2 linked regions of the Homo sapiens genome follow. The protein of the gene in region 1 interacts with the protein of each later gene in a biochemical or structural test. Each region holds a gene or a part of one and is shown on either strand. Other genes may lie near its edges. The genes, in order: ILKAP and RPS6KA3.

Region 1 (3,909 bases):
CACTTTTCTTACAAGTGACATAAAGACTCTATTAGAAGTATACAAGAAGCAGAAGAAAGCCATTAAAAAGTATTTAGTATGGCCAGGTGTGGTGGCTCACACCTATAATCCCAGCACTTTGGGAGGTCAAGGTCAGGACTGAGGTCAGCAGTTCAAGATGAGCCTGACCAACATGGTGAAACCCTGTCTCTCCAGAAATACAAAAATTAGCTAGGCATGGTGGCGGGTGCCTGTAGCCCCAGCTACTTGGGAGGCTGAAGCAGGAAAACTGCTTGAACCTGGGAGGCGGAGGTTGCGGTGAGCTGAGATAGCGCCACTGCACTCCAGCCTGGGGGACAAAACCAGACTCTGTCCCCAGCACCCAAAAAAAGTATTTAGGATAACCATTACTCAATGTATTAATCCACTTACAAGAATTCCTAATATCCCGAAGTAGGTCACTTTTGCCCAAACATTGGGTCTAACAATCACAACGCCCGTTCTCCGGACAGACTCAAAAACCACATGAGATGTTCCAGACAATCACGCTGCATTCAGTGGTGTCACAGAGCCAGATGTCTTAGGACAAGGGAGGGGACATTTACAGGTAACAGCCCAACATGAAGAGCAAACAACCCTTCCGCTTGTACCAGGTCATATTTTAACTTTTGAATTAACTTGCCCATCTAAATCAGGTCTTTCCACTGCCACTGTACAAGGGAGGAAGTCTTCTTTTACCCAGGTAATAAATATATTTTCAGTTCTTGTAAGCATTCCTCACAATGCAACTTACAGCTTAGTATTAATACTAGCCTGGCCGCCTCTCCTCTGGCTACAATTCAGTCAGATGGTGCCCCAAACTGAGCCCCATCCCCAGAGAACTGCCTATCACCTTCTTTCTCACTCTGGAATACTATGAGAGGTATTTCAATTAAACACAATGAGACCATCCTACATTTTGCTGGCCACAACTGGGAATGGCTTCTAAAAATGATAATACTGCCTGCCTGTCAGGCACTATTCTAAGAGCTCCACACATCTTCTCATTTAATTCTTATGAGATAGGTACTATTATTATTTACCGATGAAAAAACTGAGGCACTGAGGTCAATTACCTGTTCAAGATCACAGAGCCAGTAAGGAGTGGAGTGGGGATTCAAAGCCATGCAGTCCGTGCTTTTAGTGAGGTACTATGCTGCCTCCATACATGGGCACCCTTCCAGAAACTTCATAAACATCAACTCATTTTACCCTTACAACAATCCTATGATGATAATCCTGAGATTTTATAAAATCTCTGGAAATAATTTTTGCATCATCAAAAGAATCTAACTTAGAAGTCTGTATGTGGATTCTTTAAAAAAAAATCTATAGGTCATAGATACATAAGGAAACTACTGATTAGTCAAAACCTTAGATTTTTTTTTTTTTAAATTGAGACAAGAGTCTCGCTCTGTGAGCCAGGTTGGAGTGCAGTGGTGTGATCACAGCTCACTGCAGCCCCAACCTTCTGGGCTCAAGCAATCCTCCCTCGTCAGATTCCCGAGTAGCTGAAACTACAGGCATACACCACCATGCCCAGCTAATTTTTTAACTTTTTGTAGAGACGGGGTCTCACTATGTTGCCCAGGTTGGTCACGAACTACTGTACTCAAGCAATCTTCCTGCCTCAGCATCCCAAAGTGCTGGGATTACAGATGTGACCCACTGCTCCAGGCCCTTACATTCTATTTTGAATAAACTGAAATTCAAAGCATTGGGGGCTGCAATCATTGGACAAAGTGTGACCCTGACCTAAAAATCTGGAAGAGGCCCCTCCCCTAATCTTAAAAATATTAGAACCCTAATAAGAATACAAGACTAAAAATGTCCATTAATCATAGTTAATCTCATCTAGAACTTTTTTTTTTCCTCAGTTATCTACATTCTGGAGCTAAGTCTACTGGAAGTTATATACTATGCTGAGAAAAATACCCTTGGGTTGATCATATTCAGGTTAAAGGTTGCTGTATCCAATAAAGTTAAAAAAGGATGTTAAAATATTTTGGCTAAATTGTTTTTTATACCTCAATTTTTTCAACTATAAAATAAATCCAGGTGTTTTCCAAACACCACAGAGGTATTATCAGAAAAAAGGGGGGACAGGTTCCGCCACACCCCCCAACCACAGTATGAGTTTAGTGTATCCTTTCCACTTTCCTTAATGCTCATGCACATGGACTCATGCATTTTAATTTGTAGAAGACAGAGTCATACTCTACACAATACTCCACATATAGTGTTCACATAACCCATCAAGGCATGCTCCAGGCCAACACACCCAAGTCTAATTCATCCTCTCCAACAGCCACACATGGGAAGCATCTCCACTCATTCGACCAGATCCTTACTGATGGGTTCAAGCTTTTCCCAGTTCTTCATATGATAAGTGACGCCACAATCAACAATCTGATACATGTATTCCTGCTTAATCTGCTAGACTGCTCGTCAAAGGATATTAGTTTAAATCTGATAGAAGCCAAAATCTGTTCCCCAAAAAGTTGTAATTTTCACTCCCAAAACACTTTATGAGAAAGTCTACTTCGCTACACATTCACCAATGTTACCAACTGTTGCTAATCTGATGGGTGAAAAGGTAAATAGTTCCTCAGCAACTTTCTGTTGATGGGCCATTTGTATTCCTTACCTCTGAACTGGGAGGATACATCCTTTGACCATTTTTCTAGTGGGTTTTATTTTTTCCCATCAATTCTGTGAGCCTTTCTTATACCCTTAGTAATGTATATTGCAATTATTTTCTCGGTTTGTCTTTTGCCTTTATAGTATCATTTGTCCTGCAGAAATTTTAAATTTTTACATAGTCAAATTCACTTTTTTATGACTTTTTTCTTGTTCAACCCTGTAGTTTTACAATCTGTTTTCCTCTAATACCTTAACCTTTATGTTCAAATATTCTTCTTTTTTTTTTTTAATCGTAGAGACAGGGGTCTCACGAAGTTGTGCCAGGCTCTTCTCAAATTCCTGGCCTCAAGCCATCCTCCTGCCTTGTTCCCCCAAAGCGCTGGGATTACAAGTATGCGCCATCGAGCCCAGCCTCCAATTTTTTTAAAGTATTTTTAAGATGGTGTGGCCATCAAATATTTTATTTCCTCCTCAACAACTGACCATCAATTTTTAAAGTACTAGTGTAGCAACCAAATAAGTAAAAGAACCACCCTATAAAAGTGAAATCAAGTTACTGGCGAAGCAATTTTAAACCATGACACCTTCAACTGACATACATGGATTGTCAATATAAGCTGCCAATCTTAAAGACATCAGGTCGGCACTTTTATGGGTATGACATAGGAAAGTTCCATTTCTGCCTGATATGAACAAACACTTTTTTTTAGGTAAAATATATACATCTCTCCTTTAAAAAACTTGATTCATTCAGCAATTAAAACTTTTAAGGGCTTGGATGAAAACTACTAATTTAGCAAAATACCTGAAATATTTAGTGCATTCTATGTATTTTTCTAGATTATAAACATTTAAGAGGTTTAGGGGTGGGAACATTAGATGCAACGTTTAAAACAAAAATAAAAAGATCTAAACAAAATATTAATACATTTGATGTGATATAAGCAGTGTAGTATTCTCCCTTTGGACACTCAGTGCTTTCCCATAATTCATTTAAGACTGCGTTTTTCCACTTTTAAACAACTGTTAATGGCTCAGCCAGGCACAGTGGCTTACCACTGTAATCCCAGCACTCTGGGAGGGCCAAGGTGGGCAGAACACTTGAGCCCCAGGAGTTCGAGAGCAGCCTGGGCAACATGGCAAAGCCTTGTCTCTACAAAACATACAAAAATTAGCTGGCTGTGGTGGTGCGCACCTGTAGTCCCAGCTACCAAGGAGGCTGAGGTGGAAGAATCACCTGTGCCCACG
Region 2 (3,909 bases), on another chromosome or scaffold:
GGCAGGGCAGCGGCTGCCGCCAAGCACACCACTCATCAGAGCCTGCCCCGTTCCACCCCCGCGTTTCAGTCATGCTTTCCAGAAATGGGGTCACTCACTCAGTAACTATTACACACACGCAGCCTATCATCCTGTAATCCCCTAAAGTCCGCTGCGGGGAGAGAAGGCAGCAAAAAGTCAAGAAGGAAGAATCACAGACGCGCCACCATCAGGAATTGATTTTCCACTCCGGAGAGGAGCGGTGATACCTTGGAACGGGTCTTGTCTGGATTATTTTCGCAGACCCCGAGTTGTTCTGGGATAGGGGCGGTTCAGGAAAGCTCGGTGTAGTGATGCGCCCGGGGAAATTCTGTTTTGCCCTGTTTGGGTATATTGTTTGGGTTTTGGGCACTAGGATGGGTGACTCAGGGACGGTCACCAGATCCCGGGCGAGGAAAACCAGAAAGCCTTTTACGGCGGCCGCTGATCTCCTTGAATATCACCCTCTCACCTCCATGGACAGGAAACTCAAGTTAAACTCACAGGGACGGGGGTCTAGCTCTGCGACCTCAGAAACGGAGGGGGTAGGGGACCTTAGGCTTCCGCTTTCTTCTTTGCAGCAGCAGAAACCGCTGCGGCAGACGAGGGGGAGGCAAAACCCTGCACCCCCTACCCGAAACCCCCACAGGTCGCCGCCGCCCGTGCCCCGCGCGCCGGTCTCCCCGCAGCAGCCCCTCCCTCGGCTGGACTCGAGAGTCCCTGCTCCCCGGTGAACCCGATCCCTACCCCTCCCTCATCTCCCAAAGTCGCCAAGGTCCGGGAAAGCCCCCGACCCGGCTGGGCCAAACTTCCCAACTCCCCGCCGGCCCCCGCTCCGCCTCCCGCTTCCCCCACGCAAAGTTGATTAAAATTGGCTTCTTGCAAAGCCCCAGCGCCCACTCCAAACCCCACGCGCCACCACACTGGCAGCCCCCCGAGCGAGGGAAGGAGGTGAGGGTGAGGATGGAAGGAACAGACAGACCGGCCAATAGACCCACCCCAACAACCCAAACCAAAACCCTGAGCCCGGGGGAAAGACGCGAGCGGGATCAGAACGGGCCGAGTGGCCAGCTCCGGGGAGCGAAGCGAGCCGGCGGGGGCGCGAGGAGGAGATGCGCCGGCCCCGGCCGCCCTGCTGCACTCACCTCAGCGCTGTCGGACGGGCTCTCCACAGCCATCTTCTGCCACGGGTCCGCCAGCTGCGCCAGCGGCATCTTCCCCCCCGGCCCGCCGCCTTCACCGCCTCCTCCCTCCCCGCCCGCCCCACGGCCGGCCCCGCTCCGTCGCCGCCCGAGCCCCACGGCAGCGGCGGCGGCGGCGGCGGCGGCGGCAGCGGCAGCGGCAGCGGCAGCAGCAGCAGCAGCGGCGGCGGCCCCAGAGAGGGCTCGACGCCGACGCCGACCGCCCGAAAGCCGCGCGCCTGGCCAGAGACGCCCGCGCGCTGAGCGAGAGCCTCGCGCCTCCGCTGGGCACCGGGTCTCGCCCCTTTCTTCCTCTCCTCCTTCCGCCGCCGGGACTACGGCTCCGCCCCCCCCGCCGGTTCCCGCGCCCGCTCCCAGCAGAACAGCGACCGCCGCGCGCTCCCCCACTTCCGCTCACAACATGGCGCCTAAGCGATACCTGTCTCTCAAAGCGAGGCTCGGCCGCCGCCACCACCGCCGCGCGCACCCAGGGGCTGGGCTAGTGGAAGACACGCCCCCGGCCGCTGCGCTCCGCTCCTCCCTCTTCCCACCCCCCTCCTTCTGCGCCCCAACCTCAGCTTCTGGGCCTCGCCTACTTTCAGGAAGGGCGAGCCCAACAGATCTGGGGGCGTCGGCGGGAGGCGGGGGAAAGAAATGGGAAAGGCAGGAGGGGCGAAGGCTGGGAGCCTTTCACCGCCAAGGGTCCAAGGAGGTCGGAGGCTCCTTGGGAATGAGGGAGAACAGTGGTCCCCGCCCAGCTGGGGAGGGAGGTGGGCAAAGTACCGGGGGCGCAGTCCCGAGCCAAGGACCCGGGGAGGGGTGCGGAGTGTCTTTTCGGCTTGTCTCCTCCGGGGGTGCGTGCGTGCGGACGCGCCTAGTCTCTGGGCGCATCCCGTAATGGCCCAAGACCCTCCCTCTTCAGGGTCACATGCTGGGAAATCACCTGCCCCCCATCTCCCCCGACGGAGGCAAGGGAGGCTTCGTGCCTAGGAGCCTCCTGGGGGCTCGGCTCCCGGTTTGATTCAAGTCTTTTCAAGTTGACGCTCTTTTGTTAAATTGTGGCTATTTGGGATTAATTCCTCTTGTATTAGTCGCTTCCCCCGCACCGCCCCCAGCCCAAATTCTCCTCCCCAAGTGCGCAGAGCTCTCGGCCTTCAGCTGCGACCCTGGAACCGCTGCCCCCCGCCCCACGTCTGCTACCTAAATCTTCAAGAGGGGAAAACAGGGAGGTTCCTTAAGGCTGTCCCTCTCGGTAGAGGTTGGAGAATTATTTAAAAATATCTTGTAGGCAGGAGCGCGGGGTTCCTGCTCCTCTGTTGACTTTAAATAAGAGATTAGATTTAAAAATCAGGCTGGCCGTGGGCGGAGGAGGAGGAGGAGGGGGACAGAGGGAGGGGAGGGGTTCTGACTCCTCCTCCTGCCCAAGATGGGGAAGCCCTGGATTAAGGAAACCCAATGCCCCGACGGCGACGGAGCCCCACAGGACGGCGAGAGCTTTGGGGGGAAGGCCTGGGCGTCCGGGGTGCGTCCCAAGAGGACTCGACCCTGTGTTCACTGCGCCAGGAGCCGCTGCGCGCTAAGTGCGCCCGGGCAGAAATGTGTAAAAGTCGCAGGGCTGAGTGGAAAGCTACTGCAGCCCCTGGCTAGTCGCCCAGCGAGGGGAAGAGAAAAAGCAAAGGGAGATCTCCGAGCCGGCCTGTCCCTTCAAACCCTCAGGCCGTGGCCCAGGCATCCCGGTCTTCCCACGCCCAGCGACCACGGCGCGTCCGCTGCTGCGCTCCCAGCGCACGCCTATTAACAGCTTCCTTTCATCCTCCCGGGACCCAGACACCTGGAGAACCCTCGCCTGCCTCCCTAAGCAGGTGTGAGGATGAGATTAGAGCCCCAAACCCAGCCGGCCAGGTCTGCGCGGGCGGTGCGAGGTTTCTCGCTGGGCCTGCGAGAGGCAGGTGTTGGGCTCTTTCTGCTGCCTTCGCCAGCGCGCCCCTTGGCACAGGCTCGAGGCCGGGGAACCTCGTGGCCATTTAGGGAGGCTCCAACTGTTTAGGGAGCCTGAGAAGGCGGCAGGAAGTCCTCGTTGCGCGCCTTCTCCCGAAGCTTTGGACTCAGGGGGACCGCTCAGGTTGGACAACATCTGGGCAGACTCAACGTGGTCTGGGGAAGAAGGCGAATGGGGCCACTTGGCTCTTGCCTTTGTCACTTCCCTTCACATGCTATATTCAGGTGTTGCAAATCCAACCTGGGCCCAAACTCAGCTAATTTGGCAGCACCTTCTCTGTGTAATTCCCGACGGTAAAACGTGCTTGCAGAAGTTTGGAGGATAAGGAGTTGTGTACTATTTTGCATTTATGTACAAAATGCTTTATTCATTTACATTGCAGAGTCACATGACCACTCCTTATAGCGAAAAGAAGTTCGTTAATTCGGTTGGCTTAAAGTAAATTAGCTCCCCCTACCCTTTGATCAATTATTTCAGTTAACATTCTTGCATTAGTAAAAACATACATAGTTGAAGAGAGACCGTTATGTGGCTAACACTGTTCAGTGCTAATTACCCCCACGCAAAGAATGAATATTTTAAAATAAAGCAAATTGTATGCCATTTTCAGTATCAACTTTTATTCATCTCTGTTAACCTTGAGAACCAGAGGAATAACTTTTAAAACAGAGTTACCTGATCTGTAAAAGTAATGTGAGCGGTGGTCACGTT

The links.
Region 2: of the proteins of ILKAP (region 1) and RPS6KA3, one has a biochemical effect on the other in vitro, tested with the Homo sapiens proteins (one study listed by BioGRID).

Annotation. Positions count from the first base shown.
Region 1 is NC_000002.12:238,196,841-238,200,749, forward strand, and holds part of ILKAP (integrin-linked kinase-associated serine/threonine phosphatase 2C), read right to left. Parts: intron 1-3,909. UniProt on the Homo sapiens protein: Protein phosphatase that may play a role in regulation of cell cycle progression via dephosphorylation of its substrates whose appropriate phosphorylation states might be crucial for cell proliferation.
Region 2 is NC_000023.11:20,265,401-20,269,309, forward strand, and holds the start of RPS6KA3 (ribosomal protein S6 kinase alpha-3), read right to left. Parts: upstream 1,510-3,909; 5' UTR 1,233-1,509; coding exon 1,164-1,232; intron 1-1,163. UniProt on the Homo sapiens protein: Serine/threonine-protein kinase that acts downstream of ERK (MAPK1/ERK2 and MAPK3/ERK1) signaling and mediates mitogenic and stress-induced activation of the transcription factors CREB1, ETV1/ER81 and NR4A1/NUR77, regulates translation through RPS6 and EIF4B phosphorylation, and mediates cellular proliferation, survival, and differentiation by modulating mTOR signaling and repressing pro-apoptotic function of BAD and DAPK1.